Regions from separate parts of the Homo sapiens genome. Here all the other regions are linked to region 1. The links come from fine-mapping of genetic effects on gene expression. A gene starts in region 1. Each other region holds a variant in brackets. All regions are shown on one strand. Distances are between the middles of the regions. Region 1 holds the start of CCSER2 (coiled-coil serine rich protein 2). Region 2 overlaps CCSER2 (coiled-coil serine rich protein 2). Region 3 overlaps CCSER2 (coiled-coil serine rich protein 2). Region 4 overlaps CCSER2 (coiled-coil serine rich protein 2).

Evidence for each region.
Region 2: its variant is fine-mapped to the expression of CCSER2 in whole blood (INTERVAL, PIP above 0.99).
Region 3: its variant is fine-mapped to the expression of CCSER2 in whole blood (INTERVAL, PIP above 0.99).
Region 4: its variant is fine-mapped to the expression of CCSER2 in B cells (Fairfax 2012, PIP 0.95).

The regions. Positions count from the first base shown.
Region 1 is chr10:84,324,537-84,332,233 of GRCh38, forward strand. It overlaps CCSER2 (coiled-coil serine rich protein 2), which reads left to right and starts at 4,053. Exons shown (of 10, transcript NM_001284240.2): 1 at 4,053-4,272. RefSeq lists a silencer at 3,817-4,546 and enhancers at 4,597-4,946, 5,994-6,073.
Region 2 is chr10:84,518,482-84,526,178 of GRCh38, forward strand. CCSER2 (coiled-coil serine rich protein 2) reads left to right here. Exons shown (of 10, transcript NM_001284240.2): 10 at 1-36. Among named protein-coding and RNA genes, the nearest start is that of CCSER2, 190 kb to the left of the region's middle. RefSeq lists enhancers at 6,640-7,141, 7,142-7,641. The variant G/T (reference allele first, on the strand shown) is at 3,314.
Region 3 is chr10:84,364,464-84,372,160 of GRCh38, forward strand. It overlaps CCSER2 (coiled-coil serine rich protein 2), which reads left to right. Exons shown (of 10, transcript NM_001284240.2): 2 at 6,551-7,697. The coding sequence starts at 6,590. Among named protein-coding and RNA genes, the nearest start is that of CCSER2, 40 kb to the left of the region's middle. The variant A/T (reference allele first, on the strand shown) is at 4,193.
Region 4 is chr10:84,457,188-84,464,884 of GRCh38, forward strand. CCSER2 (coiled-coil serine rich protein 2) reads left to right here. Exons shown (of 10, transcript NM_001284240.2): 7 at 6,746-6,829. Among named protein-coding and RNA genes, the nearest start is that of CCSER2, 130 kb to the left of the region's middle. RefSeq lists an enhancer at 7,400-7,697. The variant A/AT (reference allele first, on the strand shown) is at 3,069.

The DNA.
Region 1 (7,697 bases):
CTGGGAGGGTGTTGTCAAAGGAGATTAACATTTGAGTCAGTGGGCTGGGAGAGGCAAACCCACCCTCAATTCGGGTGGGCACCATCTAATCAGCTGCCAGCACGGCTAGAATAAGGCAGGCAGGAGAAGACGGAAGGACTAGACTTGCTGAGTCTTCTGGTCTTCATCTTTCTCCCATGCTGCATGCTTCCTGCCCTCAAACATCAGACTCCAAGTTCTTCAGCTTTTGGACTCTTGGACTTACACCAGTGATTTGCCAGGGGCTCTTGGACCTTTGGCCACAGACTGAAGGCTGCACTGTCGCCTTCCCTACTTTTGAGGCTTTGGGACTCGGACTGGCTTCCTTGCTTCTCATCTTGCAGATGGCCTATTGTGAGACTTCACCTTGCAATCGTGTGAGTCAATACTCCATAATAAACAACCTTTCATATATACATCTATCCTATTAGTTCGGTCCCTCTAGAGAACCCTGACTAACACATTATTTTTCATCTTTCTGGGCCTCGCCAATCAATTTAGGGAATGAAAAGAAGGAATTCATTCTACTTTGTTCCCGTTTGTCATCTTCACAGCTGAGAAGCAGGCTTTCTACATCTTCACCAGGAGGCCAGTTTGTGGATACTCTGTCTTTTACTGGTAAAGATGCTCCTTGTTGCTGGATTCTAGATCCAGAAGGCATCAAGGCATGCAAAGTCTTCGAAATTAGGGCCAACAAGGAAAACTTTCTGTGATTGTGGGAGCCGAGAGTTCCCATCATCAGACTGCCTTCTGTGAAGAACTGGTGATTTCTTCTAGAAAATCAATCCCATTGACTCCTGTCCTTGTTCATGACTTAATCCAGAACAGTGCCTGTGGATGCTCAGTAAATATTTGTGAGATGAAAGGGGGAGATTTCTCTTTTAATCTTATTTATTTACAGATGGGATCTCACTGCTGCCCAGGCTGGAGTGCAGTGGTGCAATCATAGCTCACTGCAGCCTCAAACTCCTGAGTTCAAGCAATTCTTCCACCTCAGCCTCCTGAGTAGCTAGAACTACAAGTGTGCACCACTACATCCAGCTAACTTTTATTATTTTTTATTTTTGTAGAGATGGGGGGTTCTCACCATGTTGCCCAGGCTGGTCACACTCCTGGCCTCAAGTTATCCTCCTGCCTTGGCCACCCAAAGCTCTTGCTTGAGCCACCATGCCTAGCCAGGAGATTTCATCAGAGATTCTTGTCTGTTGTATTTTTTTTTTTCTTAGAGACAGGGTCTTGCTATGTTGCCCAGGTGGGGCTTGAACTCCTGGCCTCAGGCAATCCTCCAGCCTCAACCTCACAAGTAGCTGGAATTACAGGTGTGTGGGACTGCACCCAACTTGTCTGTTTTTGGATGGTCTCCAGAATCATCTCCTACTGGGGCTCTGGATCAACTGTTTCATTGTGCTGTTTGTCATGGAATCCTAAAACTTCCCCTGAAAGAATGTCTCTCTCTTACATCAAGAGGATGCCAAAAAAGGAGAATTTAGGTTGCAGATGGAATTAAGGCTGTTAATCAACTGGCCTTAAAATAAGGTTCTTATTCTAGAGCATCCAGTTGGACCCAACATAATCATGTGTCCTTAAAAGTGGAAGACTGAGACAGAAGAGGAGGTCAGAGTGATGCAATGTGGGAAGGACTCAAACTACTCTTGCAGGTTTTGAAGATGGAGGAAGGGCAGGCCGGGCACGGTAGCTCACACCTGTAATCCCAGCAGAGGCCGAAGCGGGCGGATCACTTGAGGTCAAGAGTTTGAGGCCAGCCTGGCCAACATGGTGAAATCCTGTCTCTATTAAAAATACAAAAATTAGCTCGGCGTGGTGGCACATGCCTGTAATCCCAGCTATTTGGAAGGCTGAGGCAGGAGAATCGCAGAACCTGGGAGGTGGAGGCTGCAGTGAGCCCAGATCTCACCACTGCACTCCAGTGTGGGTGACAGAGCAAGATTCCATCTCAAAAAAAAAAGAAAAGACCCAGGAAAATTAACTGAAAGCAAATAAAACGTATCAAGGATGCTTATAAAATTAGGAAAATACACTAAAATGCTATTGTGATTCTGCTAAGTATGTACATGTATTAGCATTATGGGAAAGTTTTTTCCTAGCCTTCTTTTTTTTTTTTTTTTTTTTTGGAGACAGGGTCTTGCTCTGTCACTCAGGCTGGAGTGCAGTGACATGATCACAGCTCACTGTAGTCTCAACCTCCTGGGCTTAAGTAATCTTACTGCCTCAGCCTTCTGAATAGCTGGAACTACAGGCATATGCCACTAAGCCTGGTTAATTTCTTTTTTTTTTAATAGACTAGGTCTCTATGTTGCCCAGGCTGATCTTGAACTCCTAGGCTCAAGTGATCCTCCCGCCTCAGCCTCTCAAAGTGTTGAGGTTACAGTCGTGAGCCACCACAACTGGCCTGGGCATTTTATTTTATTTTATTTTATTTTTGAGATGGAGTCTCACTCTGCCGCCCAGGCTGGAGTGCAGTGGCATGATCTCATCTCACCGCAACCTCCACCTCCCAGGTTCAAGCAATTCTCCTGCGTCAGCCTCCTAAGTAGCTGGGATTACAGGAATGCGCCACCACGCCCGGCTAATTTGTTGGTATTTTTAGTAGAGACGGGATTTCACCATATTGGCCAGCCTGGTCTTGAACTCCTGACCTTGTGATCCTCCCACCTTGGCCTCCCAAAGTGCTGGGGTTACAGGCTTGAGCCATCGCCTCCGGCCTGGTGTTTGCTTTTCTAATCTCACTTAATCCAAAGAGAGATTGCACAGCATTTAGACCTAGTCTTTGTCAATATTTTAAGCACACATTATTGTCCAATACATTAAATATCTTAGGGATTGATATTTAAAAGACATTATTTTCTAAATATGAAAGTGTATTATTAAATGAAGTGTGGTTATACAAATCAGGCATTCCGTCTGCTTTTTCCATTTGAGTATCATTGATCTGGAGACAGGAAAGAACTGGATATTTTTCAAGCAGTTCTCCTGAAATGTTATTACAACCGAGCTGTTGGGGCCGACGAGGATTTCAGAGAACTGCAAGTCTACAACCAGGTAAGGGCAACTCCAGAGCTTTAAACAGCCGGCCAGGCCCGGAAGCCTTCCAGGCTGAGGACTCTCAGCAGCAGGACTGGCCGCGTCGAGGAAAAACAAGAGGGGAAGAGATGGCCTCTGGGGGATGGAAGCCCCAAAGGGAAGAAAGACCTGGTTTCTGGCAAAGAAACCACATTGGCCAGGAGCTGTGGCTCACGCCTGTAATCCCAACACTTTGGGAGGCCAAGGTGGGAGGATTGCTTGAGCCCAGGAGTTTGAGACTAGCCTGTAAGACCACTTCCCCCAACTCTAAAAAGAAAAAATAAAAATTAGCCGGGTATTTGGGTCAACTTGTGATAGTTTACTTTGACTAGTGTGGTCTTAGTTGTAATTATTTCGGAGGCTTGGTGATACACGCCTGAGGCGAGAGGATCGCTTAAGCCCAGGAGGCTGCAAGTGAGCTGTGATAGCGCCACCGAACTCCAACCTGGGTGACAGGGCGAGACTCTGTTTCAAAAAAAAAAAAAAAAAGGGAAAACCAGATCAGCACTTGGGGTGCCCCTTCCCCTCAGCTTTAGCAAGATCCTGTGTTTTGATGCGGTAGGCAGGTGCGTGGTTCAGTCATGCCCAATGCTCAGACCACTCCTCACTTTTCACATCCAGGAGGAGGAGCTGTCAGGTTTGACCGCACTCAAGCAGCAAATGTAGTCCAGGGGACGGCTAGAGGTGAGGTCAGCCGCAAGACTGGCGTCACTGCGTGGGCCCAGCAAAAACCTGAGTCAGGAGGCGGCCAGGCAAGGTCAGTGGAGGGGGCGGGGCCCGAAGCGGAGGCGGAGCTTGGGAAAGCCTGGCGTGAGGGCGGGGCGGGGCCAGAGGTGGGCTGAGGCCGGATCAGGCGGTGGGGGCGGTCCCCGTAGCCCCGTGAGGCTCGCGCCTGCGCACGGGCCCGCGGCGGGGCGGGACTGCGCGTGCGCGGTGCGCCGGCCCTGGAGGGCGGAGTCCGGGCGGGCGCCGGCCGAGGGAGGGGGCGCGGCGGCTTTGGAGTCCGGCGCTCCCTCAGGCCGCGGACGCGATGCTGGTTGCTGCGGCTCGGGCGGCGGGGCTGGCGGGGATGTGACGGGCGGCCCTTCGTCTCACCTTCCGTCCTCGGGCCCGCAGGTCGCAGGGCGGCCTGCAGCTGGGCCGCGGCCGAGGAGGCAGCGCGACCTCCGCACGGTGAGATCCGGGCTCAGGGCCAGAGCCGGGGCCGGGGTCGCGGCGGGCGCCGGGGGCAGCCCAAGACCAGGCACGCAGTCCGGGGCGGGGCGGAGGCCCGAACTCCCGGGCTGAGGCGGTGTCGCCCTCCCGTACCCGGCCTCCAGGGTGAGCCTCTCTAGCCCCTCGCGAGCCGCCGGACGCGGGGCGGGCGCGGACCCGGGAGGCCGGAGGGCGCCCTCCCTGCGGCTGTGACAGCGCGGGGCCTCGGGCCGCGGGCGCCGCCGCCTTTCAGGAGAAATCAGGGCGAGGCTGAGGCACTCTGATTTCGGAGCCTGGTTGCGTGTGAGGGTGGATAGGGAAAGTACCGGGGCTCCCCGAATGAGTTCGATTTTTTTTTTCTTTCAATTACTGGGCTAAATGAAAGACACACCCTAAAACACATCCTGAGGTGAAACTTTGGTGGGGCACACCGTTGCCGTAGGTTCAGATCTTCTCTCTTGTCTTTAGACATGTATTTTCATACATTTTTAAATAATGCACCTACTTTCTTGATAAAGTAAAAGGAGGAATGAAGGGACTCCTTTGTGGTGGTCCTTGGTGGCGAAGCTTGTTTCCATTTCAGTAATTGCATATTCATCTGTGTGGGCTCCCCGACCAATGAGGCTGGCTGCTCCCAGACAAGGCCTTAGCGGAGTGGAAATGACTGACGCAGGGACTCTGGTCTCAGATTAGAGTGTTGGTAGCTCACTCCTGTAAGAGAGAAATTGAGCTTTAAGCTTTTTAAAATAGCCATATGAAAAGCATTCCTTTTCTCCTGAGCATTAAAATATGACGGAACCTATTCATTTGGCCAGTTGTTTTTTTTAAAGCATCATCTTTTAGACTAGAGACTTTAGAGATGGCAGCTGCTCTTTAACCAAAAGGAACTTAAGATGCTCTCCTGCAAAAGATGGGTTCAAAACATGTCTTATCCGTCATCCATATGTGATAAAAATGTAAATATTCCTGAGTGTTTGCCTGAAATCAGTCTTCTTCCTCTTGGACTTTATTACTGTTTCTCTTAATTTATGAAAGCTTGTTACTGTTATTTTTTGTTTTCGTTTGTGTTCTAAACAACATTGGCTTCAAATAATCTTCAGGTTAAAAATGCACACTTTGTTGAACCCTTTAGCCATAATTCATACTGTCGTACTTCAGCATAAGCCATAGTTAAGAAAGCACTAGAAGCCATCCTGAAAGCAAGCCGAAAGTCTCTATTAAGAATTCTGTAAAAATTCTACCTTTCCACATTCAGACCTGCATTTTTTGTTGCTTTGACTCAACTCCTTTGACTATTTTGGAGGAAGGGACTTTGAATCCATATTTACAAGTCCTTCAGTGACTCTCCATAGTCTATATCGATAAAATTCAAAGTCCTTCATGATTAGCGGTATTTGTCTCCATTCTAGTGTCATCTTCTACCATTATGCCTGCCCTCTCTATATAAGACTGTTGCAGTTCTCTGAAGATGACATCTTCCTCTGTGGTTTTTCAGTGTTCTTTGTTGAGAATTCTCTACCTAGTAAACAACTTGCCCTTGAAGACCTTACGAAAGTAGCACTTCTGAGGCTTGTCTAGACATTTCATCCCTCTTGTCTTAACTGATTCGTACACTCTCCAGTTAGTATTTGTCAACTGGTAGTTAATGATTTGTTTATGTGTCTGTCTCCACCAGGTTTTGGGGTTTCTTTTGTGTTTTTTGAGACAGAGTCTTGCACTGTGGCCTGGGCTGGAGTGCAATGGCCTCATCTCGGCTCACTGCAACTTCTGCTTCCTGGGTTCATGCGATTCTCTTGCCTCAGCCTCCTGAGTAGCTGGAATTATAGGCACACACCACCACACCTGGCTAATTTTTTTTTAGTAGAGACGGGTTTCAGTATGTTGGCCAGACTGGTCTCAAACTCCTGACCTCGTGATCCGCCCACCTCGGCCTCCCAAAGTGCTGGGATTGTAGGCTGGTTAGGAATGAAACCCCAGTTATGTTAAAAAAAATCCATTTTATGATACAGGAATAAAAAGGGCATGACCAATAAAGATTGCTGCTTCATTGGTCCTACAACTTTATTTTGAGGCGCAAAGTCACGCAGGTAGAAAGGGATGGCGGGGATTACAGTCCAGGTCTTTTGACCATCTGTGTATTTCACTTTTGCCCCCAGTCTCCTAATTCTAAATCTTAATTGTTTTACAATTTGAATGGGAGTTGTGAGCGACTTGGATGTGTTCTGAAAAAAGGGTCAATAGAATATTGAACTTGAAAGAATTAACAGATTATTTGGTTCAACTTTAAAAATTTTACGGTTAAACAACTCAGCCTAAAAAGACAACTTGTTTGAGATTGCTTAGGCTCACCTACATCTCATATCTCCTGACCTCATCATTGTGTGTTTTTCACTACTCCATGGTGCTTTGGGGTGAAATGAAGGAGCTGCCAGTTTTTCAGAGGGAGTGCAAATCTGCTTGCACTTTCTCCCTCTTTGAATACATGGCTGCCACTCCTAGGGACTTAGAACCCTTGTGGCTGAGAAACATGATAATTCATTTGGGGATATGGGAGAAACCTAACCTTCACTATTCCTCTCAGCCAGATAGTTTTAACTTCAGTGCTTGGGGCGCTCTCTCCAGATGCCCCATAACAAGTGGCTTCTGATCACCATATGGACATCTCACATACAGTTAAGTTTTGATGGTACAATGAGATTTTAATATAAGAAGGTTGCAGCTGGCTAATAGCATGGCTAAAATTACTTGTGTGGCTTGTCTGTGAGAGGAGCCTATCTTACTCCTATGTGATAGGATTTTGGGGGAAAAAATTGATGATTGTGGCTGTCTCTAAAAAGTTGAAATGTGTACTTAGTGGTGTGGGCCTGACCAATTCCAAAAGGCTTTTTATCTTACAAACAATGGTCAAAGAAATTTTAAAAATCAAAACAAACTTAATTTTTCTTCTTATTTCTTGTCATATCAGTGGTTTTATATGATAAAGCATACACATAATGCTTAATATTTGCTTTCATATTTGATGTTTTATTTTTGCTATAGTTTTTATACCTTTAGATGATTATACAGTGTTACAATGTCATTTCTTAATAATTGGACATCTAGATTGTTTACTATTTTGCAGATAATGCCGTTAGTATATAGCTGTTTATCATTTTGCTTCTTCCCTTTGGGCTAAAGGCCCAGGAGCAGTATTACAAAGTCAGAGGGTATGAAGGTTTTGTTAATTCTGAAAAATATTACTAGATTTACTTCTAAAAGATATTGATTTACAGACTCCAGTAGAGTTTGGTTGACCATTTCTATCATACTTTATAGGTTTTTGCTTTTAAAAGTTTGTTTTTTAAAAATGAGGATAAGGTTCCTTGCAGTTTAACATCATAGTCCATAATAGACAAGCAAATGCA
Region 2 (7,697 bases), 190 kb after region 1:
GCATAGTAAATAAAAATAAAGTTCATAATTATAAAAGTTCTCTTGTCTTTCTCAACATTGACTCCCATAGTTTGCTTTTTCTTTGATATCTTTTTTCCCACAAAGATCTAAGATACTGTTCATTTGCTTATGTTTTTCCCAACTCTGATACTTTATTTTACATGCTGCCTTCACACACATCTTGACACCCCAAGCCCTGATTGAGTAGGAGTTGATCAGTATTTTGTTGTTGTGTCTTCACAAATTCTGTAAGAGATCTAGTACTTTCGTTTCCATTGTAATAAAATACCTGCTTTATCTTAGAATATTGGGATAATGGTTAATGGACATTTCAAGAAACATTAGCACCTTGGATTTAGAATGCTGTACAAGGAAGAAAACACTTGTAATTTTAATTATTTTGTCATTGTTTTTAAGCAGTATACAAAATAGCTTGAGGCAAGAAAGGTGTTTAGTGAAATTTTACATAATTTTTAGGAACAAAAGGAGTAAGGAATATATATTTTTTCAGTTTTACAGTTTAGTCAGATGCGATAGTCCCGTAATAAGAGACAAAAAAGTTGATGCAGTGGTATGTTATTAATCCAAAATGTTTACACGAATTCTGGGAAAGGAGGGAAATTTTATTAATAGTTTGATAATAGCACTTATTACCTCTTAAGACACCTGTATGAACTTTAAGGCCATCTGAGTTCTTAGTGTTGCAGAATTTTGCTCCTTAGGTCGGCTAAATCGGGGTTCTTGTGTCAGGACCAGGAAAATGTAGACACATGGACACATTGAAGTGTGTGGGGAATGGAATTCATTGGGCAAAAAGGAAAAAAAAACTCAGCAAAGCAAGGGGGGAATCCTGCTAACAGGCCCCCACCTCACAGATAAGTTCCAGGCCACCACACATGTGAGCTGAAGAGCTCAGGCTCTTCCCTCCTGCCCAAGGCTGGAACTTCCCGTGGCTCCACCCAGTTCTCCCAGTGCACAAGCTGGTTGGAGATTCTCTGAGGACCCTCCCCCTTATTGGCCTTCTGCATCTATCATTAGCAAGTACTTTCTTATACTAAAAATTTTCCCTTTTAATTTTGTCATTAAGTGTAGTCATTTCAGTTTCTTCATTTATGCTGTTGATTGCGCGTTTTCCATTGTGAAAATATTTTATCCCTACAGAAAAGACAAGCATGAGTTAAAGAATTGACTTCTTCCTCTGTTAACTTGGTTTAAGTAAGTTTGATGGGATGTCTTACCTGTGTCACTTGCTGTGCTGGCTGCAGGGTGTACAAAGGTAACGATGATACAGGTTCTGCCTTATGGAGCTTAGGAACCCTAGGGGATTTTTAACATCATCCGATCCATTGCAGCACTGAGCCCTTCCCTTGCATTCCCTGTTTATTATCTTCCTTTGAACCTACCAGTCTCTTTTGACGTTTCCTCTTCAGTTTCATTTCATTCTGGGCTTTAACTCCCTTGCACTATTCTCCTCTTGGATTCTATATTATGTTTATTCTTGTTTGGTTGCATGCCTTCATTTCCCTAGAAAACCTGGCCTTTTATTATTTTATCCAAGAACGAACTTCCTCTTTAGCCACTATTAAATACTCTGCTTTCTACTTTAGGTTCTTGGAATTTGATTTTAAGACTTCTCGACTATCCTAAGGCCACTGTCCCTTTTAGAACCTCAACCCATAAGATGTTGCTTTCTGAAGTCTACCTTTAACATTCAAATTCATGTCCGGGCTTTTCCTTCCATCCCATTCTCTTGGATAGATCAAATATAATATGGTCTACTTGATGTTTTCAGTTTCTATTTTAATTTTTAATTTTTATGGATATATAATAATTATACATATTTATTAAATACCTGTTATTTCGATACAAGCATACACTATAATCTGTGTAATTGGGATATCCATTGCCTCATTTATTTCTTTGTGCTAGGAATATTTCAATACTACTCTTCTGGTTATTTTGAAATATACAATAAATTATTGTTAACTATGGTCACTGTACTGTGCTACTGAACACTAGGTCCTATTCATTCTAACTGTATTTTTGTACCCATTAACCATCCCCTCTTTATCCCACCTCCCCACCACCCTTTCCAGCCTTTGGTAACCACTATTCTACTCTCTACCTCTGTTAGATCATTTCTTTTTTATCTTCCACATGAGTGAGAATGTGCAACATTTGTCTTCCTGTATGTGGCTTATTTCACATAATGACCTCCAGTTTCATTCATGTTGTTGCTGGTTTCCTACCATTTCTTGCCATGGAGTCTCTAAGGAGGAATTTAGGTCATCCAGAGAAGCCTTTTCCTCACTGATGAATTCTCCCACCCACCCATGCACACAGCCCTCAAATTAGCATCTTTTCTGTGCAAAAATCAGAGAGGAAGAAACAGTTCCTCACAGGCACTTCTCTGGTTTCTCAACCTGAAAAATGGTATTGCTACTTTCCAGATCTCAAAACAACCCACTCCTTAATCCTCACATGAATTCATTCAGACACCCATTTTGAGTATGAATAATCCTTTGGTAATACTTTAAGTGATTACAGAACAAATGCTTTCTGCAGCAAAAGTATACCTGAAATATCAGTCTACTAAAGTGAAAGGTAACTATTCCCCACAAGAAACATGGTTGAAATGCTTGTTTTGTGCACAGCCCTCGTTTCTGTCTCGTGGCAGGAGGTGGATGAGACGGAGACCCTGCGATTGAAGAGATCAAATTGCAACATGACAAGAAGGATCCCAAACAAAGCACTGTAAGAGAGCCAGTGGGCAGGAAGGGGACGTTTGGGACCACAGGTGAACTCGCTTCCAAAACCATTCATCCTTGACAAATGTGCATGTGTGTTAGGATTTCTTTTTAATTACAGCTAAATAAAAACTAGGCCACTATCACATAACCTGTAGTGGTAACGATACATTCCACGAACCTGAGGCCTTTTTAAGCACGTATCAGTTCAAAATACTTCTGAATTATCAGGAATTTAAAAAATTTTCACAAGTTTTAGCTGAGGTTTTGCATTTATAGTAGGTCAAGTGCAAATGTGAATTGCAATGAAAAACAAAAGTAATAGGAGTTGTGATGGATTGTTAATGCAAATGGTTTCTTAAATTGTGTTCCAGAGTTTTGCTGAGATGCAAACACAGATGCTCTAAACTCCCTGCTGCCAGGGGCCGCCTCCACCAGGTTCAAAGATTCAGGACTAGTCAGAGCTCACAGGAGGTGTTTGGGAAAGGGTTTGGGCCAGACCTGGGCACTCAGAACCCTGGTCCTTGGTCTGACTACTCTCATTCTAAGAAAAATTTCAACTAAGG[G/T]AAGGAAAGCAGAGCACACAGTGCTTTCCTGCCTTTCAGAGCTCGTAAAGAATTCAAGGGGGAAGCAAAGGAGACCATGGACTTAGAACTATTTGTGAATATTACAAGAAGCATTACTGAAGTCACAGAACAAACCACCAAAGTACAAAGGGCCAATATAACAGAACAAATTAATGATTTTTGCTATTAGTCAAAGAGATGCAAAACAGAATGGCGTGCTACTTACATACCTTTACATGCAAAGAACTGTTTAAAAGAGTGGAGCATTGGAAAAAAAAAGTCTGACAGTAGGAGAATGATTACATTATTTATATGACAAGATGATGCCACAGTCAGCTAATGCTCTTGGGGAATATTTACTCAAAATATGTATAACAATATTTATTCAAAATATTCATATTACAACTGAGGACAAAAGCAAATTTACGAATCCATGAATGTAGTACAATGTGAATACATATATGCTTATAAATACCTATATAAAAGAATAACTTCTTAATGGCTGAATTATTGGCCATTTTTTAATCTTTTTATATATTTTCTGTTTTTTAAAAATGGTGAGACTATGCTCTTATAATCAAAATTGCATGTGTATGTCTGTGTGTTTAATAACAGGGTCATTTCTGTTGCCCAGGCAACATTTGTAAGGCACCTGGCGTATAGGCATCCAATAATTAATCTCCCTTGCCACAGATTTAATGAGTGGTCTTTGTCATCATGGGATGATGTTTCAGAAAATTTTAAGTCACTTATTCAATGACATAGCAAATGGCCTATCTCCCTAACCTCAAAACTAGTAAGACTGCATTATTGTTTTACTCCTTTTTTTGTTCTGGTAATTGGGGTTGGGAACACATTACCTTATGAATCAGGATCCGTCCACTGTCAGTGACAAAATCTATTTCTGCCAAACTTGAATAGTTTGTTCCCTTAGCATGGAAGCTTGGAGAGATTCGTCCTTATTTATGTCAACCCTTCTCTGTGTTCTTTGTGTAGTATTTTCTTATTAGTCATCAGTTCCGTCTACACCATCCCAAATAGGAGTGCCCTAAACAAAATCTTTATAGACTGACAAGTCCTTTCCAGCGTCCTGCTGCATGAGGGCTGTTTGCTGTGGGATGTCAACTCTTAGTATATTAACTGGACCTTAGTGCGTAGTGTGACGGAATGCAAATTGCATTGAACACATTTTTATAGCATGGCTTGTGGTGCTGGAAACCAGAAAAGACAGATCCCAGGGCTTTGCCCCACACACTAGTTACAGGATTGAGGATTCCTCTGGTTTGTTCAGCCACTGCTCTGCTGCCTCCTGCCTCCCAGGCTGGGATGAGCTAAAGAACAGGCCATCTAATTCTGCTCACTGGTTTCGAGCCACGGAAGGAGACCTTAACCTTTAATTATAACGTTTACTTATGGTTTCCTTAAAGCTAAGCCAGTGCTACTCTGGTTTGGGGTGAGTGGGGAAAGCCTACTAGAGTCCAGTTGCCCAGCTCTCAGCAGCACAAGGCCTGGTCAGAGCTTCCTTCCTTAAGGAGCAAACACACAAGACTGCATGAAAGAAATAGGACAGGAAAAGGAATCCTAAAGCAAGCAACTGTGTTAAAATCCAAGCAGGTATTGACTTCTTTTGTACAAAGAAGTAAAATTTTTCCCACAACAACTACTTTTCTCTTTTTATCAATATTTAATTTTCTGTAACCACACTTCACCACCACTTTTCTAATAACTTTTAACTGCAAAGTTATGTGACCATTTTTCTCTGCCTGAGAAAATGGGATTTTTTTTTCTTTTCTTCTGAATACTGCCCTCCCCGCAGCCCCTCCCAACCCCCCGCCCTGTGACAACCTCAGAACATCAAAGGCAAGTGTTTTATGCACCGTGTACATTCACTGTCTGGCTCTCTGCCAGGCTGGAGGGGAGAGCAGAGACTTGTGCTGGCCAGGTCAGGCTCTGTGCACAGGGATTTGGGCTGCGGGGGAAGCTGCTCTTTATCCTCTTCTGCCTTAGAGCAGGCAAGATGGGAACACTCTTCTTAGCATCTTTTAATCCATGTTGTCTGTGCTCTGTCACTCCCGCTTCTGAGTATTCCCAATAGTCAAAAGAATTTTGCCCAGTTTCCCTCAGTCCTTTGCATTACACATTATAAATTACATTTGAAGACACATCTTTGCATAAGGCATCAGGCCCTGTAAGCCACCCCATCCCCATCCCCACTCAACACTCACTGGTGAGATGATAAGCCATTTTTTAAATGTTTATTTTATTTTATTTTTTTGAGATGGAGTCTCACTCTATCACCCAGGCTTGAGTGCAGTGGTGCGATCTTGGCTCACTGCAACCTCCACATCCCGGGTTCAAGGGATTCTCCTGCCTCAGCCTCCTGAGTAGCTGGGATTACAGGCGCCCGCCACCACTCCTGGCTAATTTTTTTTTTTTTTTTTTTTTTGTAGAGACTGGGGTTTTACCATGTTGGCCAGGCTGGCTTTGTACTCCTGACCTCAGGTGATCCACCCACTTTGGCCTCCCAAAATGCTGAGATTACAGCATGAGCCACTGTGCTTGCCAAACCATTTTTTTTCAAGTAGGTTAGTTTTCAAAAGCTGTGTGGTCTCATTTTACTGTTTTTTGTTTGTTTGTTTGTTTGAAGAGTCATTACTTTATTGAAGCACATTTTACATATATAATTTATTCCAAGTATACAATTAAGAGATTTTTTATAATAAAAAAATTAGCTGAGCCTGGGGTGACATGCACCTGTGGTCTCAGCTACTTGACAGCCTGAGGTGGGAGGATCACTTGAGCCCAGGAGGTCAAGGCTGCAGTGAGCTGTGATTACACCACTGCACTCCAGCCTGGGTGACAAAGTGAGACCCTGTCTCAAAAAAAAAAAAAAAAGATTTTTTAGTAAGTTTACCAAGTGTGCAACCTTTGCCATTTAGAATATTAGAATATTTCCATTACCCCAACTGTTAATCTCTGCCCCCTCTTGATTAAGCCAAGCATCATCTACTTTTTGTCTCTATTTATTTGCTTTTTCTGGACCTTTCACATAAATAAAATCATATCAGATGTATTCTCTGTGTCTGCTTTCTTCCACTTAGCATAACAATTTTGAAGTTCACCAAAAATCATAGCATGAATCACATCATTTTTATTGTTGAATAATATTCCATTATATGAGCATACTTTATTTTGTCTATTCATTCACCAGTTTGTAGACATTTACATTGTTTCTAATTTTTGGCAATTATGAATACTACTGCTAGCAACGTTTATGTGTAAGTCTTTGGACATATTGAGAGAGGAGGAAGGAAGAAACCCATCAGGCAGGCAATTAAGGGGGGTCCTGGGTTGAGTTCTTTCAGACAAAAGAACAGCCTGCAGGCACAGATAAGAGACCTTGCACAGTGGGGCTAGCCTGAGACATGCCCACAGCCTCACAGATAAGAGCGGCTATACAGGAGATTTGTCTAGACATGCCTGCAATGGAAAATTCTGTCCCCTGACACGTGCACAGTAAGGGGAACAAAACAATGTGGAGTAACTCAAGCTAAGGACCCACATGCACATTAGGAGTGTTACCAGGGGGTCCTTGCTCCCAGAGCTCTCAAGATGGTGGCAGGCCGCTACCAAGATAGCGGCAAGCCTCTTGTTCTCTGACCTGGGATTCTTGGCCTCATGGATTCCAAGGAATGGAATCTTGGGCCATGCAGTGAGTGTTATAGCTCTATTAGAAGCCGTGGGTCACGGCAGAGAACTGTGGAACCCAGCGACTAGGGTTCAGCTCGATTAGGACAAACCTGGGCACTTAGCCATGGAGGAACAATGGCAAGCCTTTAGCCTGATCGGGAGTGGCAATGGGTGCCTCACTGGATCGGGAGCACAGCGGACACCCTGCCAGATCCGGAGGGGTGGAAGTCAGCGGCGGGTATGCGAGGGCGGCAAACAGCAGTGGTGGATGGTGAGCAAAAGCTCAGCTCGAGCTGTAACACAAACATGGACCAAAACAGTGTGCAGTTGCAAGATTTAAGAGTGAAAACAGAGCTCCCATACAAAGGGAGGGGACCCAAATGGGGTAGCCGTTGCCAGCTCGAATGCTGGGTTTATATCCCGATCATTGTCCCTCCCGCTGTGCTCTGAGGCGATAGATGATTGGCTATTTCTTTACCTTCTGTTTTTGCCTAATCAGCATTTTAGTGAGCTCTCTTTACTACATGATTGGTCAAGTGTGAATTAAGTTGCAAGCCCTTTGTTTAAAGGTGGATGCAGTCACCTTCCCAGCTAGGCTTAGGGATTCTTAGTTGGCCTAGGAAATCCAGCTAGTCCTGTCTCTCAGTACCCCCTCTCAACAAGAAAACCCAAGTGCTGTTGGGGAGGTTGGCCG
Region 3 (7,697 bases), 40 kb after region 1:
AATCCTCTTTGACAGTTTATGAATTTGTGACTTTGGACAAGTATATTAGCCTCTCTGAATCTTGGTTTTAGCTATTTAAGATGGGAAGAAATCTACTACCTTATAATGTTATGAAGATTAAACAAAAAGTATGAAGTGGTAAGCATGGTACCTATCATGTAAGTGCTTAATAATATTTGCTGCTGCTTTTCCCTTATCCAATTGTGGATTTCTTTTAAAAGCGAGAAGCTTGATTTACAGTTTTAAAAAAAGGCATTTATAAGTATTTTTGAATTTTTTTTTGTTTTTTTTTTTTTGAGATGGAGTCTGGCTCTTTTGTCCAGGCTGTAGTGCAGTGGTATGATCTCGGCTCACTGCAACCTCTGCCTCCCGAGTTCAAGTGATTCTTGTGCCTCAGCCTCCCGAGTAGCTCAGATTACAGGTGTGTGCCACCATGCCTGGCTAATTTTTGTATTTGTGGCAGAGACAGGGTCTCACCATATTGGCCAGGCTGGTCTCGAACTCCTGACCTCAGGTGATCTACATGCTTCAGCTGCCCAGAGTGCTGGGATTATAGGCGTGAGTCACCACGCCCGGCCTGAAAAAAATTTTTAAATATTAAATACCAATACTGTAAATTTGCTATACTTTAAAAAATTATTCTTGCAGAAACTAAAAAAAAACTGACATTTTCAAGCACTGGTCCAGATATTAGTCTTAGTTCACCACTAAATTAAAGCTCACAGATGGTATTAAAGTGTCTCAGAGATTATATCATTAGATGATGTAGGCAACATATATTTTTTCAAATTGTTAATGAATGGATTTTTTAGACACCTAACAGATTACAGTTTAGGTAAAGTGCATCAAAGACAGCATGGCTACCAAAATGAAGCAGACTCACAATGTCTATTTTATTTTATTTCAAAATTATAAGCAAATATAAGGGAAAATTTCATGAACTTTTAAAGACAGATGGTAGCTCATCAACGAATGAAGTGATAATATTCATAACGTAAACTTCATAGTGGAGCTGTCAGACTAGTTTATCTTAAGACCAAAGTTCAAGATGATTGATGTGATTTGTGTTGCAATTATTTGTACATTTAGAAATCGTTATTCTTCATAGAGAATAGCACATTCAGGTTCTAACATTATTCTTTTCCCCCACAAACTGGTGGAACCACAAACACCAGTAACAGTGTGTCTCTCTTGTGGGCTCATCTTGTGCCTCTAAGTTATTAATACTGAAGATGCTCTTGGGAGATAACATGTATTACCCTCATCTTAGGCAGGAAAATAGAGGCATAGAGAAAGGAAAGAATATAATTTTCTTTCCGTGGTCTACTTGTGACAGGCGGGGAAATGTTAAAGCCTTTCTGACTCACAGGCTCTTTAATCTTTAACATGTATTATTTATTGATTTGCAAAATGACCCTAATATGTAATATCAATACCAGTTTTCTTATGTTTATACCGAAAGTGGTTGTGGGTATGGTAGTATGTTTTGTGGAAAAGACCATTATCAAAAATGAGGAAGACAGTTGTCTGGCATGGATATTGCCACTGTCCCTTGCTCTGCTCCTGGCAAACATTGCTGCTTGATCATGTCACTACTTCAGAAGCTAGATTTGACCTCAGCATCCTTTTTGTTTTTTAAAAATTTTAATGTTAAATTTTTAGTAGAGATGAGGTCTCACTATGTTGCTCAGTATGGCCTTCAACTCCTGAGCTCAAGCGATCCTTTCGCCTCAGCTTCCCAAACTGTTGAGATTACAGGTGTGAGCCACTGTGCCCGGCCTCGGAATCCTTTTCAACATATTGCCCAAGGGAGCTATTACCAGTCAATCACAGGTCCACAAAACAAAGTTCTTTTTTAGTCTTTCCTTACTGTTGAATTAATTTACATTAAGAGATTATGAATTTACTTAAAAGTTGAGGATCTATTAAATTTGTAGTCCTGTAGCTGGCCTCAAAGTACAGTATATAAGACTTAGTTTATGTTCTCAGCAGGTTTACTTTCCTGTGGGTCAAATAGACATGCACACAATTAGAAGACAAACTCAGCTATATTATTGCTGTGAAGAGAATAGAGAATGATGTAAGATTAATTTTAACTGGAAATGTTGGTGGATGTGGTGATTTTGGACTTTGAGGATAGAATCTTCCAAGGGGTCTTTAGCAAAGGCAAAGAAGTTAGAAAATATAGGATGGATTTTGGGCAATGACAAATAACGTATCTTGGCTTAAGTATATAACAAGGATAAGGTAGAATCAAATAGAGTAGCTTGCTCCCTGTACAATGAGTTTTGGGTTTTATTTTGTTGTTCCTAGTCTCACAGATGGTTTTTAATCAGTAGAATGACGTGATCCAGATCTTTGCTTTAAGAAGATAACTGCTGACAGTTTGAATAGAAGTAAGGTTGGAATCTTGACAAATGTAGGAATCCTTGGTAGTAGTACAGGAAGAAATGATGAGCATAAGAACTAGAATTGTGGAATGGAAGTGGTGAATTTAGAATAAATTTTTAATGGTAAAATTAATGTGATTCCTACAGGATTAAGTTATCCCCAGAGGCTCCAGCATTTCTTTGGAAGGTTATCCAGTTATTTCCTTTGTATATTCCAAGTTTAAAAAATTTTTTAAAGGTGATTTTTTTTCTCTACTTGTATTTCTGGAGAATTATTTCTTTATCCTTGGTATTTCATTAACTTAAATAGGATACGTATTTGCATCTGTGATTTGATATATTTTTTCTTTCCCTCCATAGATTTTTTTTCACCTTTATTTTAGGGATATTTTCTATTATGTCCTCCTGCCTTTTCTCTTCCATTTAATTAGTTATTCTACTTCAGGGATACTAATTATCTTTCTGTTCAGCCTTTGTCCTACATTTTCTTTCTAATTCAATATCTTTGTCTTTTTTTTCTCCTCGATACTTTTTTTTTTTTGAAACAGGGTCTCACTCTTTCAGCCAGGCTGGAGCGCAGTGGCTTGATCACGGCTCACTGCAGCCTCAACCTCGTGGGCTCAGTTGATCTTCCCGCTTTAGCCTTCTGAGTAGCTGGGACAACAGGTGTGTGCCACCATGCCTGGCTAATTCTTGTATTTTTTTTGTAGAGATGAGGTTTTGCCATGTTGTCCAGGCTGGTCTCACACTCCTGGTCTCAAGTGATCAACCCACCTTAGCCTCCTCGATATACTCTTGTTACCTTAAGATTTTTCTCCTTGCCATTTGTTTAAGTCTTTGCTTCTTTTCCTTGCTTTTTTTTTTTTTTCTTTCAAATTCATTGTTCTTCTTAATTGGTTTCCTTAACGCTGAAGCCTTTCTTTTCAATTTACCTGTTTTGTCTTTTCATCTTTGGGCTTTTGTTTCATTAGATGCATGTTCTTATTAGGTTGTTCTGTGTTACAAGAAACTGTTTATATGATTGTATGGGCATTTCTTTTTGTCTTGCTCAGGCTTAATTTGGATACCTAGGTCAAGACTTCGCTTTTGCCCTTCTGTGGCCCTATGCTTTCCCATCTCCTTAGATTGCGTTAAATGTCCTATACCAGTCTCATTTCATACTGCTGAGGGTACAGTACATGTCTATGGGCTTCAGATCCTTCCCTCAACTCAGTATAGGGACTTAGAAGTTGGCAGATCCTGGTGATGCCTCTGCCTAGGTTTTGAAGCCTCTGTGCTCGGGATATTTTTCCTCAACTTTTGTAGGGCATGGCAAATCAAATTTTTTCTATCCAAACTAGAGGTATTTCTTAAAATTTTCAAGTTTTTTAGTTCACATTTCTTTCTCACTACTGCTTCCAGGCAGTAATCAGGCTGCCAGTCATACTGTACCATACAGAATTTTTTTCTGTCCGCTACTTTTTAAACTTTATAAGTTCTTAGTTTAAATAGTTTTTTGTATTACAGTGTGTAACTGATAGGTTTTCTGCTGAAAAAAACCACATACACACAAATATATATATATATCTCTTAGTTGTTGGTAACAGGACGTTCTTTAGTCTTTTTTCACTCTATACTTGAACATTTGTACGATTTTCTAAATATTTACTTTTGACATAATAACATGTATTATAGGAACTCTACTTCTTAGGCCAGGGTTGACTTGGAATCAGTTGTTTTAAAAATAAAAAAAAATTCTCATGACTTTAGTAATTAAGGTTTTTCGAATGTCTTCTAGCTTTTATAAAACCATGTATTTTTTT[A/T]AAAAAATAATATGTTCTTTAATTACCTTTTATTTCACTGGCTTTAAGGGAACAGGTGATTTTTGGCTGCATGAATGAATTGTGTAGTGGTGAAGTCTGAGATTTTAGTGCACGTGCCACCCGAATAGTATACATTGTACCCTACTACATTGTGTAGTTTTTAAAAAATCTCTCATCCCTCTCCCATCATCCCCCTTTCTGAGTCTCCAGTGTCCATTATTCCTCTCTGTATGCCTTTGCATACCCATAACTTAGCTCTTAATTACAAGTAAGAACATGTGGTATTTGGTTTTTCATTCCTGAATTACTTCAGAATAATGGCCTCCATCTCCATCCACGTTGCTTCAAAAGATATTATTTCATTCTTTTTTATGGCTGAGTAGTATTCCATGGTGTATTTTTTTAATTCACTCATTGGTTGATGGGTACTTAGGTTGGTTCCACATCTGGCAATTGTGAATTTTGCTGTGATAAACATACATATGCAGGTTTTTTTTTTTTTTGATACAGTTTTCCTTTGGGTAGATACCCAGTAGTGAGATTGCTGGATCAAATGGTAGATTTAGTTCTTTGAGAAATCTACATACTGTTTCCCATAGAGGTAGTACTAATTTACATTACCACCAGCAGTACCTAAATGTTCCCTTTTCATCACATCTATGCCAATATCTATTGTTTTTTGACTTTTTAATAATAGCCATTCTGGCTGGGATAAGGTGATATCTCATTGTGGTTTTAATTTGCACGTCCCTGATGATTAGTGATGTTGAGCATTTTTTTTTCATGTTTCTTGGTCATTGTATACCTTCTTTTGAAAAATGTTTGTTGATGTTATTTGCCCACTTTTTGATGGGATTATTTTTTTCCTTGCAGATTAGTTGGAGTTCCTTATAGATTCTGGATACTAATCTTTTGTTAGATGCATAGTTTGCAAGTATTTTCTCCCATTCTGTGGGTTGTCTGTTTACTCTGATTATTTTTTGCTGAGCAGAAGCTTTTTAGTTTAATTAGGTCTCATTTATTTTTTTGTTGCATTTGCTTTTTGTGTCTTAGTCGTAAATTCTTTGCCTAGACCAATATCCAGAAGAGTTTTTCCTAGGTTTTCTTCTAGCATTTTTATGGTTTCATGCCTTGGATTTAAGTCTTAAATCCATCTTGGTTGATTTTTGTATATGGTAAGAGATAGGGATCCAATTTCATTCTTCTACATGTGGCTATCCAGTTTTCCTGGCAACATTTATTGAATAAGGCGTTCTTTTCCCAATTTTCATTTATGTATGCTTTGTCAAAGGTCAGTTGATTGTATTTGGCTTTATTTCTGGGTTCTCTACTCTGTTCCTTTGCTCTATGTATGTACTTTTATACCAGTACCATGCTGTTTTTGTTACTATAGTAGCCTTGTAGTATAATTTGAAGTTGAGTAATGTGATGCCTCCAGATTTGGTTTTTTGTTTAAGATTGTTTTTTGGTTCCATATGAATTTTAGGATTGTTTTGTCTAATTCTGGGAAAAATGATGTTGGTATTTCGATACAAATTGCATTGAATCTGTAGACTGCTTTGGGCAGCATGGTCATTTTCATGATATGGATTCCTCTAATGCATGAGTGTGGGATGTATTTCCATTCGTTTGCATTGTCTGTGATTTCTTTCAGAAGTGTTTTGCACTTCTCCTTGTAGAGATCTTTTACTTCCTTGGTTAAGTATACCTAGGTATTTTATTTTATTTTTTTGCAGCTATGGTCAAAGGGATTGAGTTCTTGATTCTCAGCTTAGTCATTGTTGGTATGCTACTGATTTGTGTACTTTGATTTTGCAACCTGTGACTTTACTGGATTTATCAAATCTTGGAATCTTTTGGAGGAGTCCGTAGGATTTTCTAGATATATAATCATATCATTGGCAAACAGAGATAGTTTGACTTCTTCTTTTCCAATCTGAATGCCTTTTATTTCATTCTCTTGCCTGAGTGCACTGGCTGTGGCTTTCCATATGTTCTTATTTTTAAAGGAGAGACTTTTACCCAAAATGAAAAAATTATTTGGATTGGAAATTGGAAGAAGTACTCTGTAAGTATTATTTTTTACATAGTCAAATTTGGTGGTTTAATTTTATTTCTAGATTTTGCTGTCATTCATAGCATACATTTATAAAAGTTTATAAAAATGTTCTTTATTTTCTTCCAACATAAAGTTATTAATTTAATTAGTGCATTCGGTATTTGCCAGGAGTTCTGTAGGAATCATGAGTAGCTTTTGGGTTTTTCTGCGTATAAAAGTGTAAGTATCATATTATGTAATAATTCATGTAATTATCCTTATTTAGGAATGTTTAATGTACTTCTTTTTTCTCTTCACAGATTCTTTCAACTTTTAAGAACAAATGCACCTTATAGCTCATGGAAGAAAAAACACAAATCAAGACATTTTTGGGTTCCAAGTTGCCAAAGTATGGAACAAAATCTGTAAGAAGTACATTGCAGCCAATGCCAAATGGGACACCTGTTAATTTATTAGGAACTTCCAAGAATAGTAATGTCAAAAGTTACATCAAAAATAATGGCTCTGATTGTCCATCATCTCATTCATTTAATTGGAGGAAAGCAAATAAATATCAGCTTTGTGCACAAGGTGTCGAAGAGCCTAACAATACTCAAAATTCACATGATAAAATAATTGATCCTGAAAAACGTGTTCCTACTCAAGGAATGTTTGATAAAAATGGGATAAAGGGAGGTTTGAAAAGTGTTTCTTTATTCACATCAAAGTTAGCAAAGCCATCCACTATGTTTGTGTCATCTACAGAGGAGTTAAACCAAAAGTCTTTTTCTGGACCATCTAATTTGGGTAAATTCACCAAAGGCACATTATTAGGAAGGACTTCATATTCTTCGATCAATACTCCAAAATCACAGTTGAATGGATTTTATGGAAACCGATCAGCTGGTAGCATGCAAAGGCCTAGAGCGAACTCCTGTGCCACCAGAAGCAGTTCTGGAGAAAGCTTAGCTCAATCCCCAGACAGTAGTAAATCTATTAATTGTGAAAAAATGGTAAGGTCACAAAGTTTTTCACATTCCATTCAGAATTCATTCCTTCCACCTTCATCTATAACCAGATCACATTCCTTTAATAGAGCTGTGGATCTTACAAAGCCTTATCAGAACCAACAGCTATCCATTAGAGTGCCTCTACGGTCAAGTATGCTAACAAGAAATTCCCGGCAGCCAGAAGTACTCAATGGGAATGAACATTTGGGGTATGGATTTAATAGGCCTTATGCTGCTGGTGGAAAGAAGTTGGCTTTACCAAATGGCCCAGGTGTAACTTCTACTTTAGGTTATAGAATGGTTCATCCCTCTCTACTGAAATCTAGCCGATCTCCATTTTCTGGGACTATGACAGTTGATGGAAATAAAAATTCACCTGCTGACACATGTGTAGAGGAAGATGCTACAGTTTTGGCTAAGGACAGAGCTGCTAATAAGGACCAAGAACTGATTGAAA
Region 4 (7,697 bases), 130 kb after region 1:
CAGTCCATGTCTTCTTTTATATATATATTACATATTATATATAAATATATTATATATTATATATTATATAAAATATATTATATATAATATATTATATATTATATATTATATATAATATGTTATATATAATATATTATATATAATATATTATATATTATATATAATATATATATTTATTTTAAATATATATTTTAAATATATATTTATTTAAATATATATTTTAAAAAATATATTTAAAATTATATTTATATATAAATACATATTATAAAATATATAATATATATATAAAAGACATGGACTGGAAGAAAGTATCTGCAATCATATATATTTATATATAATATATGTATAATTATATATAATGTATATTATTATATATAAATTTATATTTATATATTATATATAATTATATATTTATATATTATATATAATTATATATTTATATATTATATATAATTATATATAATTATATTATTTTTAATTTTAGTTATTATATAAATTATATATATTTATATATAATTATATTATATATAAATATATAAAATTTTGTTTGTTTGTTTTTGTTTTTGTTTTTGGAGACAGAGTCTTGCTCTGTTGCCCAGGCTAGAGTGCAGTGGTGTGATCTAGGCTCACTGCAACTTCCACTTCCCTGGTTCAAGTGATTCTCCTGTCTCAGCCTCTGGAGTAGCTGGGATTACAGGCGAATGCCACCACGCCCAGCTAATTTTTTGTATTTTTTTCCGTAGAGATGGGGTTTTACCATGTTGGCCAGGCTGGTCTCAGAACTCCTGACCTCAGGTGATCCGCCTGCTTCGGCCTCCCAAAAGGCTGGGATTACAGGTGTGAGAGCAAAAGTTCTGCTCTTGAAGTAAAATTTATCATTTTTTTGCCACCATTTTTTCCATAGATCATGTTTTGGTCTAAGAAATCTTTGCTCAACCCAAGATTGCAAAGATTTTCTATGTTTAAGTGGATAAGTTTTATAGTTTTAAGTTTGAAACTTAGGTGTATAATCTGTTTGAAGAGTTTTTGTATGTGGTATGAGTTATGGGCCAAGATTATTTTTATCACGTGTATGTTCAGTTGTTCTAGCACCATTGGTTGGAAAGAATATTGTTTCTGTAGTGTTTTGCCTTTGTAATTTTGTCAGAAATGCCTTTGACCATAAATGTGTGGGTCTGTTTCTGGACTCTTTTCTTTCCATTGATGTATGTTTATCTTTTTGCTATTATCACTTTCTCTTGATTACTGGAGCTTTATAGTAAGTCTTTAAGTAGTGTGACTCTTCCAACTTTCTCTTTTCAGAATTGTTTGACTATTTTAGTTCTTTTGCCTTTTCATGTAAATTTTAGAAGCAGCGTTTCTATTTCTACAAAAAATAAATTCTGCTGGGATTTTGATAGGGAGAATACTGAATCTCCAGTTGAGTTTGGAAGAGAATTGATATCTCAACAATATTTAATCTTTCCATTCATGAACAGAGGATATCTCCATTTATTTAGTTCTCTCTGATTTCTTTCACATATACACACACATATATTCCTTCACATATACACATATATACATACACATATATGTATATACATATATGTGAAAGAAATCAACCTATATATTTAATATACAGAGTCTGTGTTTTGTTGGATTTGTACCTAAGTATTTCTCTTTTGTTATTTTGGATTTTTTTCCCTTGTCTTTTGGATTTTGCTTTATCATAAATGGTAGTTTTTTTTAAATTCAATTTTCAGTTGTTTGCCATACACAGTTGATTTTTGTATATTGACCTTGTATCCTGTGATTTTGCTAAATTCATGTACTAGTTCTAGTAGTTTTTGTTTTTGTCTTTGAGACGTTCTCGCTGTGTTGCCCAGACTGGAATGCAGTGGCACGATCTCAGCTCACTGCAACCCCTGCTTCCTGGATTCAAGCGATTCTCCTGCGTCAGCCTCCTGAGTAGCTGGAATTACAGGCATGTGCCACCACGCTTGGTTAATTTTTGTATTTTTAGTAGAGATGGAGTTTTGCCATGATGGCCAGGGTGTTCTTGAATTCCTGACCTCATGTGGTCTGCCTGCCTCAGCCTCCCAAATTTCTAGTACTTTTATTATAGATACTTAAGGGACTTTCTACACCATACATTCTGTGTCTAAATGAGGTTATTTTATTTTTTTCTTTCCTATTCGTTCGCCTTTTATTTCTTTTTCTTGCCTTATTGCACTGGATAGAAACTCCACTATGATATTGAATAGGAGTGCCTTGTTCCTGGTCTTGGGGTAGAATATTCCATGTTTCACCATTAAATATGATGTTACTGGTAGGATGTTTTGTTTTGTTTTGGTTTGGTTTTGGGGGGGAATCAGAGACAGGATCTCCTTCTGTTACCCAGGCTGGAGTGCAGTGGCACAGTCATGACTGACCACAGCCTTGACTTCCCAGGCTCAGGTGATTCTCCCACCTCATTCTCCCAATTAGCTGGGACTACAGGTGCATCCCACCACACCTGGCTAATTTTTTATAGTTTTGGTAGAGACAGAGTTTTAGCATGCTGCCCAGAATGGTCTTGAACTCTTGGGCTCAAGCGACCTGCCCCTCTTGGCCACCCAAAGTACTGGGGTTACAGGCATGAGCCACCATGCCTGGTGGGTTTTTTGGATGAACTTTATCAGGTTGAGCAAGTTCTTTTATTCCTAGCTTTCTGAGTTTTTTTTAAATCCTGATTGGATATTGAATTTTGCCAGGAAATTTATCTGTGTAGTCTATTGAGATAATTGTGCAGACCTTTTATTTCTCAATTTGGTGAATTACATTGCTTTCTGACTATTGAACCAGCTTTGCATTGGTGGGATCAACCTCAGTTGCTCATGGTGTATTTCCCTTTTTACATATTGTTGGTTTTGATTCTTCGATTTTTTTTTTTTTTTTTTTTGAGACAGAGTCTCACTCTGTTGCCCAGGCTGGAGTGCGGGGGTGCAGTCTTGGTTCACTGCAACCTCTGCCTCCCAGGTTCAAGCAATTCTCCTGCCTTGGCCTCCTGAGTAGCTGGGACTATGGGCATGCGCCACCATGCCCGGCTG[A/AT]TTTTTTTTTTTTTTTTTTCATATTTTTAGTAGAAATGGGGTTTCGCCATGTTGGCCAGGCTCATCTCAAACTCCTGACCTCAGGTGATCCCCCCCGTCTTGGCCTCCCAAAGTGCTGGGATTACATGTGTGAGATTTTTTAAAAGACTTCTGCATCCTTATACATGAAGAATATTGATCTGTAGTCTTCTTATACTGTCTTTGTTTTAGTATCAGGGAAGTGCAATTAATGGCCTCATTAATTGATTTTATTAATTTAATTTGATTTTTCTCTAAGTGGTTGTATAGAATTGATGTTATTCTCTTAAATTTTGGAACAATTTGCCAGTAAAACATCTGGCCTCAGATTTTTTTTTTTTTAGTGAGAGGCTTTAAACCATGAATTCATTTTTATTAGTAGTCATATGTTTACACAGCTTATCTATTTCATCTTAGGTGAGTTTCAAGAGTTTGTTGCTTTTGAGGAATTTTGCCACTTCACATAAGTTGTCAAATTTGTGTGTGTAGAGTCATTCATATTATTATTGCTTTATTTACTCTTAGCATTTGAGATGTCTGTAATGATATTTCTGCTTTCATTCCTGATAATGTTTTGATTTGTGCTTTCTTTTTTGCATTTTGGCAGTTTTGCTAGATGTCTAGCAATTTTCAAAGAAAGTGTTTTTAGTTTCATTGATTTGTTTGTGTTTTTTAATTTTCAGTTTCATTAATTTCTGCTCTTGATTATTTTCTTCTTTCTGCTTGTTGTACATTTATTTTGCTCCAGTTATTGATTTGACACCTTTGTTTTAATAAAAGTATTTCATTCTATAATTTTCCCTTATCACTCTGCTTTAGTTGCATTCCACAAATTTTGGTATGTGGTGTCTGTTATTTTCCTTCAATTCACAATATTTTCTTGTTTTTCTTGAGACTTCTTCTTTGACCCAAGGATGATTTAGAAGGTTGTCTACTTTTCAAGTGTATGGAGATTATCTTTCTGTTATTAGTTTCTAGTTAAATTCTCTTATATTCAGAGAGCATATGTTTGGTGTATTTTTAGTTCTTTTAAATTTGGTTTCTCAAATCTGTAGGTTTGTGTCTTTCACCAAATTCGGGGTGTGTTTATCCATTATTTCTTGAAATATTTTTTCTGCCCACCCCTATCCTTCTGTGACTTCAATGACAGGAGTGTTAGCTCTTTTATTACTGTCCGCATATGTTCCTGAGCAGGCTCTGTCAATTTTTTTTGACCAATCTTGTTGCTCTTCATCATTCAGATTGGATAATTTTTGTTGATCACTCTTTAAGTTTATTGTATAATCTGAAATGCTAGTATTTAGCCCATCAATAGTGCATTTTAAAATTTTGGTTTTTGACTCTTTTCAGGTCTAAAATCTCCATTTGTTTCTACTTTTTATATTCTGTTTTTTTTTTTTCCCCCTGAGATTTTCTCTTTGTAGTCCCTTCAAGAGTTTATTCTTTTGGAGAATTTTAATAACAGCTCTGTTAAAATCTCTTCCAGTTCTACCTTCTGTGTCATTTTGGTGTTGGTGTTTTTTGATTGTCTTTTCCTTTGTGAGTTGACATTTTCTCCTCTGTTTAGATGTTGAGTAATTTTGGATTATATATTAGATATTTGAACGTTGTATAATGAGATTCCTGATCTTCTTTAAATCTTTATTTTATTTTGTTTTTAAACAGGCAAACAATGTGGTTGAGTTTAGGCTACAAGGTACAGCTAGCTGTCTTGATTGTGGTTTTAATGCCAGCTCTGTTTTCAAAGCTTTTGCCATGCTTTCCAGATCTGTTCTGAGTATACATCTTCCAGAGGCTAGTCTGGGACCTGGGAAGTGATCTTAGGTTATTTTTCAAAGTCTTTGCTATGCTGTTTAGGATCAGATCCAAGCAAGTGCTGCTCAGGGATGAACCGATGAATTTACAACAGCTTTATGGAGCTACTTTACTCAGTTCCTGGTATTTTGTGACCTCTGGTATTTTCTGTTTTGCTGGACTTCTCTTTTTTCCTCTATCCTTAATGCTGTTGTTTTATTTTTTCTATTCTGCTGTACACTTCCCACAAGTGCACCTGCATTTAATGCAAAGCAGTATGTGCTTGTGTTGTCTCATATTCCTTGGGGTTCCTGCATTGCAGTTGGGAAGAAGACATTTAGATATTTGGAAATAATTCAAATTTTACAGTCTGTCTCTCTTCTCAAATATACTTGTAGGTAGGACTGGCGATGCTTTTATATGTCTAGGCAGTAATAACGGAGATGAACTTTTTACTGAGATGAGTCCTGTAAAACTCACTTTACTTTCTTTATTTCTTAATTTTTAAAAATGTGTTCCGAGAATATTGCTATTCATTAGAATGTTGCCTATGTTCTTAGATCAAAGTCTTAATGTCCATTTGACACCACCATAGAAAAGTAATTTATCTATGCTGGAAATTTGGCAAACACTTACTCTCTTGACTGTCAATCAGCATTACCTTTTGAACTGCCCTAAATACACATTTAGAAATTCTGGGCCCCATCCCTAGAGATTCTGTGTCAGTGGGTATACAGTACAATAAATTAAGAAGAAAATAACCTGCATGCTCACCTCCCCTATTGTAGACATTATCCATGGTATGGGAGAACCAGAAAAGATATATCTGAGGAAGATTGCAATGTTATGTTCCTTGAAGGTTGCTGGTTCAGTCACTGGGTTTACTGAGGCAGCCAGGAATCATGAACAAATAAGGTGTTGAACCTCAGTTGTGCTGCCTTAGTCAGGGGCTCAGTCCTGATCAAGGTAGCACGTCATCCAGTTATATTCTTCACTGGTTCATTTTTCTTGAGGCTGTCTTTCTGAACCATTGAGCATGTGGTTTCTTAGTACTAAACCAGTTCAGCAAAGGGTGGAACTTAGTATTGTCATCCTATTTTATTTATAATGTTTTGGAACAAAAATCTTTATTTCAGCCTTTTTTGAGGCATGAGATACATCCAGTAAAGTGGTTAAGGTGTACCAATCTTAAGTGTACAGCTCAAGCTTTTCATATGTATGTTTAACTACCGTACACTCAGGACATAGAACATTTCCAGCTTCCTACTAGGTTCCCTAATGTTCCTTCTTAGTCAGTAACCCCCTTCCCTTTAGTCTACCATCATTCTTCTGATTTCTAACACCATAGATTAGTTTTGCCTTTTCTCAGACTTCATATAAATGGAGTTATGTGATATATATCCTCATGTAGCTAGTATTTTTAATTCAGTTATTTTTGCTGCTAAGCCTTACTGGGTTACTTAATATTATTGTTTATGGCTCCTTGGTACTCAAAACATGTCTAAACCAAAGCAGATTCAGTTGACCTTTGTTTTACACTTTTCCTAGGTGAAACAGTCTTAAAATTCTTTAGGAAATTTCTCATAATGCTTAATGGTTCTGTATTTCAGCCGCTTATATAGTATCCGTTATTTACTTCCACAGATTATTCTTGCCGTAGCTCCCTTTTTTCTTCTTCCACATTTCCTTCTAACAGTATATATAGGGGAAATGAAGATTTCTAAAATTTTGTCTCCCATTTGTTCTTCACCATGCTAGCATTTGGTCTTCACCATGCTAGCATTTGGTCTGGGTAAATTCAGGTTGAACTGAATGTCCACAATTACTATATTAATCTAGTGTTTTTCTTCCCTTCTTTCTGACAGCATGATGGAAGTGGTTCATTGCATGATATTCAACTGTCATTGCCATCCAGTCCAGAACCAGAAGATGGTGATAAAGTATATAAGGTATGACTATGTAGTCATGCTGGATTTTTCAAAATTCTTTTTAAATACTAAAATAATGATACAATGACAATGAAAACAATAATAAATGTATTAATACCTAAAGCATCAGGTTTGTTCTTAACTTTTGCTACTTTGTTAAGTTGAAATGATATCTCTGTGGTGCTTTAATTTGAATTTATCAGTTGGATAATGATCTGTCCTTGTATTACTACTGTTGCAGGATTTAAAAAGAAAATATATTGCTCATAATGATAAATGATAAGAGTTTTTAAAATATGAGTAGGAATGAAAGTTAAAATGGTTATAGGTGCTTCTCATATATAAATCCCAAAATTGAAGAAGTATACTGAAAATGAGATTAATTTCTTTTTTCATGTTTAAAAATACAGAATACAGATGTATTTTTGTGAGTGAAAGTGTTTTTTTATAATTCTTATTTATGTCTATTTTTAGTTGAAGAAAACTCTTTTATTTTGCAACTATTTAAGCACATATTTATTTCTTAAGCACACACAGAGATTCTTGGTTAATTTAATGTTTCCAAGTCAAGTTATAGTTAGCTTTTACATCCCATTTTCAGGGTACACTTATTAGTGTTTGCTAGTCATCTACAGTAACAACCTGAAAGCAATGGTGGCTTATAATAATGAAATTTATATTTCACTTACATATTGGCTGTAGATCAGCTGGGACTCTGCTTCATGTGTCTTCCTCATTCTGGGATCCATACTGAGACGGATCAGCCCCTATTGTGGGACATGTTATTGTGCCAGTGGGAAGAGAACTTTGATAGGATCACATGTGAATTCTGCTTGGATGTGGCACATATCACTTTCAAAACAATTCAAGGGGCCAGGCCTGGAATTAA